2 separate regions of the Homo sapiens genome follow, and region 1 is linked to region 2. The links come from fine-mapping of genetic effects on gene expression. A gene starts in region 2. The other region holds a variant in brackets. All regions are shown on one strand. Distances are between the middles of the regions. Region 1 overlaps GGT7 (gamma-glutamyltransferase 7). Region 2 holds the start of MYH7B (myosin heavy chain 7B).

Region 1 (2,904 bases), 92 kb after region 2:
AGGCATGGTGGCATGTGCCTGTAATCACAGCTACTGGAGAGGCTGAGGCAAGAGAGTCGCTTGAACCCAGGAAGCGGAGGGTGCAGTGAGCCAGGATTGTGCCATTGCACTCCAGCCTGGGCAACAAGAGCGAAACTCCATCTCAAAAACAAACAAAAATAGCCTCTCGAGTAGTGACCTCCCATAGTCCTTAGGGTAAAACCCAAGCTTCTCCCCAGGCTAGTAGAGCCCCACATATCTTCCTTTTTTTTTTTTTTTCTTTTGAGACAGAGTCTCACTCTGTCACCCAGGCTGGAGTGCTGTGGCGCGATCTCGGCTCACTGCAACCTCCACCTTGTGGGTTCAAGTGACTGTCATGCCTCAGCCTCCCAAGTAGCTGGAATTAGAGGCACACATCACCATGCCCAGCTAATTTTTGTATTTTTAGTGGAGCCGGGGTTTCACCATGTTGGCCAGGCTGGTCTCAAACTCCTGACCTCAAGTGATCCACCCGCCTCGGCCCCCCAGAGTGCTGGGATTACAAGATTGAGCCACTGCGCTCAGTATGTATCTGGCCTAGCTTCCACCCTTACTACTCTTTCCCCATGCCTGCTACACCAGAGCCGCCCAGGCCTTGGTTATTTTTTTTTCTAATGTGCCAAGCTCATTCCCACTTTAGGGCCTTTGCATCCACTGTTCCCTCTTTCCAGAACATTCCACACACATACTCTTTGCTCTACATTATAGCTGGCTCCTTCTCATCCCTTAGTTTTCAGCTTAAAAGTCACTTCCTGAGAGGCCTTCCCTGATTTCTGCAGCTAAGGAATCCTCCCTCCCCTACCACCATTATTCTGTCATTTCCTCCTTTTTCTTCATAGCACCTGCCACAACTTGTAATTATAGACTCCTTTGCTTATTGGCTTTTTCTTCCAGGGCTCTATGAACCACATGAGGGCAGGAACTATCTGTTCCCGTCCCCTGGCACCTAGCATAGGGCTCTCCATATTTAAGGAATGAGTGAGCTGATAACTGAAGTGAGGTTGGAAGGCAGGGTCCCTCCACTCTGTTTATGTAGCTGCCTCCTTGCATGGAAGGCTGGGCCCCAACTGGGGCAGGATCCGATTTCCACTGAGGGCTGGAACCCCCACCCCACCCCCCAGGAAGTGTTCTCAGCCCTGGGCCCTGGGTGCCAGGAAATTTGGCCTAGGTATCAGGGAGGGGCGGGAATCCAGCCTCCCTGCTGCCCAGCTGGGGAGGTCCCTGTCTCTTCCTAGCCGGGCACCGTTGCCCCGCCTGTCCTGGGGTGCACGCGAAAATGAGGAAAGGTGAGTAGTGCTAGCCAGTGCGGGGATTGTGTGGCAGGGGCGGGGCAGGGAAAGCGCTGAATAGTCCCACCTGGAGGGTGGGCAGGGCCAGATAGGAGATGCCCAGACCGACCCCGGCTGCCTGCCCGCAGACCCGGACTCCTTCCTGAAGTCTGCACGGCTGCAGCGGCTGCCATCGTCGTCGTCGGAGATGGGCAGCCAAGACGGGTCGCCGCTACGCGAGACGCGCAAAGACCCGTTCTCCGCCGCAGCGGCCGAGTGCTCCTGCCGCCAGGATGGGCTCACGGTCATCGTCACGGCCTGTCTCACCTTCGCTACCGGTGTCACCGTGGCGCTGGTCATGCAGATCTACTTCGGGGACCCCCAGGTGAGGGGGACAAATGGGGAGGGGGAGGAAACTGGGGA[G/T]TGGGGAGTGGGGTAATGTTTGAGGAACTGTGGAAACTGGGGAATGGCTGAGTGGTAGAAGGGGAGAGAGGGTGGTGACTTGGGAGAGGAAGGTCCCAAAGAGAGGAGCTCCAGGGCATGAGGGAGACAGAACAAGGAAGAATAAGGACAGATCCATTAGGAGGCACTTGGGGTAATGAGGGCAGAGTCAAGGCAACAAGGGGGCAGGGCTTCGACCTTCATGCCGCGTAGAGTTCTAGGGCTAGTGGAGGTGCCCTAGGGAGGTGGACAGCTCCTCCTGCCCCCACCAAGTCCTCTTTCCCCTCCCAGATCTTCCAGCAGGGTGCCGTGGTGACCGATGCTGCCCGCTGCACTTCACTGGGCATCGAGGTGCTCAGTAAACAGGGATCTTCTGTGGACGCAGCGGTGGCAGCAGCCTTGTGTTTGGGTATCGTGGCTCCACACAGTTCTGGCCTGGGCGGGTAAGGAGCAGTGGAGGTCGGGGTCCCCCAGGCCTACTTCTTGCCTCCAGGTCTGTAGGCCTCATGTGCAGCACTCCTAACTTAGGGAGAGGGGCTTTTGGGCCCCAACTCCTTGCATTTTCTCTTTCTACACCAAATTTCACCCCCTTCTCCCTGGATGGAGTCAGAAGAGCAAAGCTACCTTATGGAAAACCTGAAAGTGTTTTCAGAAGCTTTTTTTTTTTTTTTTTAACTAGAAAAAGAAATTTGTAAACCATAAATTAAGATGCACAGGTGGAGGTATACTGTCATCAATTAAGGCAGAGATATTTCAACTTCTAGGATCATAAATCCCTATGGGTCTGATGAAAAGCCTTGCACCCTCTGTCCTCCAAAAATACACCCTGCACTAAGAACTCTTAGAAGTTACAAGCTGGCCACCCATGGGCAACACCCAGCACACAGACTGGTTTGGTTTAGACACTGAACTGTCTTAAAATTTTGTTTGCTTTTGTTAAAAAGTTGAGAATTTTCATAAAAATCCAGATTTCCAACATCTCTTGAACAATCGGGAAATCCGATAACAACTTGGGCCCGCATTCTCACATGGCTGAAGTTACCTGGCGTGGAATAGAAGCTGCTTCCCATGATGGGCATGCACTGTCCAGTTTGCCGTAGTTTCTACCACTTCCTCTTCTCTGTCCTGCTTGCCTTAGTTTGTCATTTGGCTGTGGGCATTTAAGTTTGCAGCCCCC
Region 2 (2,904 bases):
GCTACAGCCTCATGATCTCACATCTTAACTCTCTCTGCTTTCTCTGGCCCATCTCCCCACTTCCAAACCATTTGTCACGCTGTAACCAGTGCCTAACACACAAAACTAACCATGTCCTTCCCCTGCTTAAAGCCCTTAGCTCCTGTTGCTCAGTGGAACTGGCGTCTGAGGCTACCTCTCCAAGCCTAAGCGCCTAAGTCCTGTTGCAACCCTCAGGCCCTTCCTCATTATCCACACCAAACTCCTCAGTGTCTGTAAAACAAGCCGAGCAACCCTCAGAATTATATGCCTTCGCTGCTCGTTTGTTTTGTTTTTAGGACAGGGTCTCACGCTGTCACCCAGGCAGGAGTGCTGCAGCGTGATCTCAGCTCACAGCAGCCTCCGTCTCCGGGGCTCAAGAATTCTCACGCCGCAGCCTCCCGAGTAGCTGGGATTACAGGCACGGGCCAACACACCCGGCTAATTCTTGTATTTCTAGTAGAGACGGGGTTTCGCCATGTTGCCCAGCCTGGTCTCCAACTCCTGAGCTCAAGTAATCCACCTGCCTCGGCCTCTCAAAGTGCTGGGATTACAGGTCTGAGCCACTGCACCCAGCCAGCCTTTGCTGCTTTTGTTCCTGCAATTTGGAACACTGTCCCCATCCCAGCCTCTCACCTCTACCCCTACCTCCTTCACTACCTATACCTTCCTATCCATCCTTCAAGACCCCAAAAACCATCCCTGATTCCTTCAGAAAGGCAGTTTATTGCCTATCTTATCAGACTGAAAGCAGTGGCTGTGTCTTATTTATGGTTAATTCCCTAGAAGCTGGACTGATACATTCCATTTAACTAAAATTCGTATCAGGTGCTTCGGACTGCAGACAAGCCTATCACAACCCAGAAGGAAGAAACAGGGAAGGCACCTGGGGGCTGCCAAGCAATGAGGTGGGGGGTAGGAATCATGAATCCGCATATTTTTAAAAACTGCCCCAGATCCTGATGTAAACGGTACAAGAGAGTCTGAGAAACACAGGGCTCCCCTCAAACAGTCCTGACTTCAGCATTCCTGGAAAAATGAAAATCCTTTCCTTTTGCCTCTAATGCTTTCCCTGCTGGTATCCCAGGTTAAAAAAAAATAGATAAAATCAGGGGGATTTTTCTGGGACTTGGCTGGGCTGGGAAACAAGCCTGGGTTCTAATACAGGCTCAGCCCCTGACGTACTATGGGCCCCTGCCCCTCCTTGGGGCCTCCATTACCACGGCCACCCCCACCCTTATCAATTGTGTGCCCCTGAGGTAGTGACTGTCCCGCTCTGAGCATTAGTTTCCCCATCTTCCACTAGTCGTCGTCAGCTCTGACGCTCTATGAGCTATGCATACCCGTAGCTCCCCGCCGACCCCGATGGTCCCCTCCCCTCCTTCCCAAGGTCCATCCGCCAGGGTGCAGCCGACGCACTCCTAATGCTAAGGCCGCCCTCTCATCGACCGCCCCTTCCTGGCCTCGACTCAGCGCCAAAGGTATGGGTCTCTGCCCCGCCTGCTCTTTAAGCCTAGCCGGGGCGGTCAGCGCAAGCGCACTGGGTCGCATCGAGGCCCCGCCCCCTGAGCCTGGGTAGCGGCGCGAGGGCCGGGAGAACCGTTCGCGGAGGAAAGGCGAACTAGTAGGTTGGGGCGGCCACGGCGGCCGGCATGGGTCACGTTTCCTCGGGAGGAACGATGTGAGGGAGGGGTCTGGCAAGAGATTGGAATTCCGGAGGCCGGGAGACCTTGTGGCTGAAACCCTTCGTAGGAGCGGGGCAACTAGTGTCTAGTGAGGGGGTTGGGCTGGCGCGCACTGATCCCAGACTTTCCGGATCTTCTGCCTTTAGATCGGGCCGGTGTCGGGGCATGTAGGCCAGTGAGACTGGAGCCAGTTAGAGCTACAACGGGGAGCGATTAGGGCCAAACTTTGTCCAGGGTGGAAGCGAGCGGGCCCGTGAAGTGGGGCCAGCCTGGGCAGCCGACCGTGTCGTTGCCTCGGGGCCTTTCCAGGCACTGGCCTAAGTCCTGGCGATAAAGTGCGACCGATTTCCTTGTGGGCGTTTTGAGGCTTTCGGTGATCTGACCCGTCTGTCATTCATTCTTCATTCATTCATGTGATGAATGAATACAGTACTAAGCGCGGCTAATTACTAGGTAGAGAAGTGATCAAGACAAACACTGTTCCTACGGTACAGGGAAAAGTGATGGGCTGTAGAATGTAGAAGCCCGGGGCGGAGAACAGGGACAGCTTCCGGAACGAAATCGCGAGCCCAGATCAGGAGTGGTGGCGAGAGTTCCAAAGAGAAGACAGCACGTGCCAAGTCCTGGAAGGGGGACAGAGGCCAACATATCCTGGTCACTGAAGACACCTGACTCTGAATCTGTTTCACGCCCAGGGAAGAGATGACAGTGGCCGGGGCTAGGCTACAAACTCTGGAAATGGAGATAAATAAAGGAATTCAAAGTACTATATACTTAGGCAGCAAAATCCATAGGATTTGGGGAGAGTGAGATGTAGGAAACAAGTACTCAAGGCTTGGGTACCTGGGTGGGGTTCATCAGAGAAGAAGCAGATTTGTGGGAGACAACAACAAATTCTATTCTGGTTGTATGGAGACTCGCAGGAAAAAATTGGATATTCTAGTTTGAAGGTAGGAAAGTATTGCTGTGAAGATGTAGATTTGAATGTCATCAGCAAAACATAAATAAAGCCAAGGGAGGGTTGAGGCTGTAGAATGAGAAAAACAAAGGGCCCACTTAGCACCTTCATCTGATTTCTTTTCTTTCTTTCTTTTTTTCTTTTTTTTTTTTTTTGACAGAGCTTTGCTCTTGTTGCCCAGGCTGGAGTGCAATGGCACGATCTCGGCTCACTACAACCTCCACCTCCTGGGTTCAAGCTATT

What was found. PIP is the estimated chance that this variant, and not a neighbour inherited with it, causes the effect.
Region 1: its variant is the best candidate, but not a certain one, in a credible set for the expression of MYH7B in lymphoblastoid cells (GTEx, PIP 0.89).

Annotation. Positions count from the first base shown.
Region 1 is chr20:34,862,080-34,864,983 of GRCh38, reverse strand. It overlaps GGT7 (gamma-glutamyltransferase 7), which reads left to right. Exons shown (of 15, transcript NM_178026.3): 2 at 1,436-1,671; 3 at 2,019-2,170. Among named protein-coding and RNA genes, the nearest start is that of GGT7, 9.3 kb to the left of the region's middle. RefSeq lists an enhancer at 1,400-1,951. The variant G/T (reference allele first, on the strand shown) is at 1,710.
Region 2 is chr20:34,954,465-34,957,368 of GRCh38, reverse strand. MYH7B (myosin heavy chain 7B) reads right to left here and starts at 1,501. Exons shown (of 45, transcript NM_020884.7): 1 at 1,362-1,501. GSS (glutathione synthetase) reads left to right here and starts at 1,563. Exons shown (of 13, transcript NM_000178.4): 1 at 1,563-1,642. RefSeq lists enhancers at 1,236-1,415, 1,656-1,755.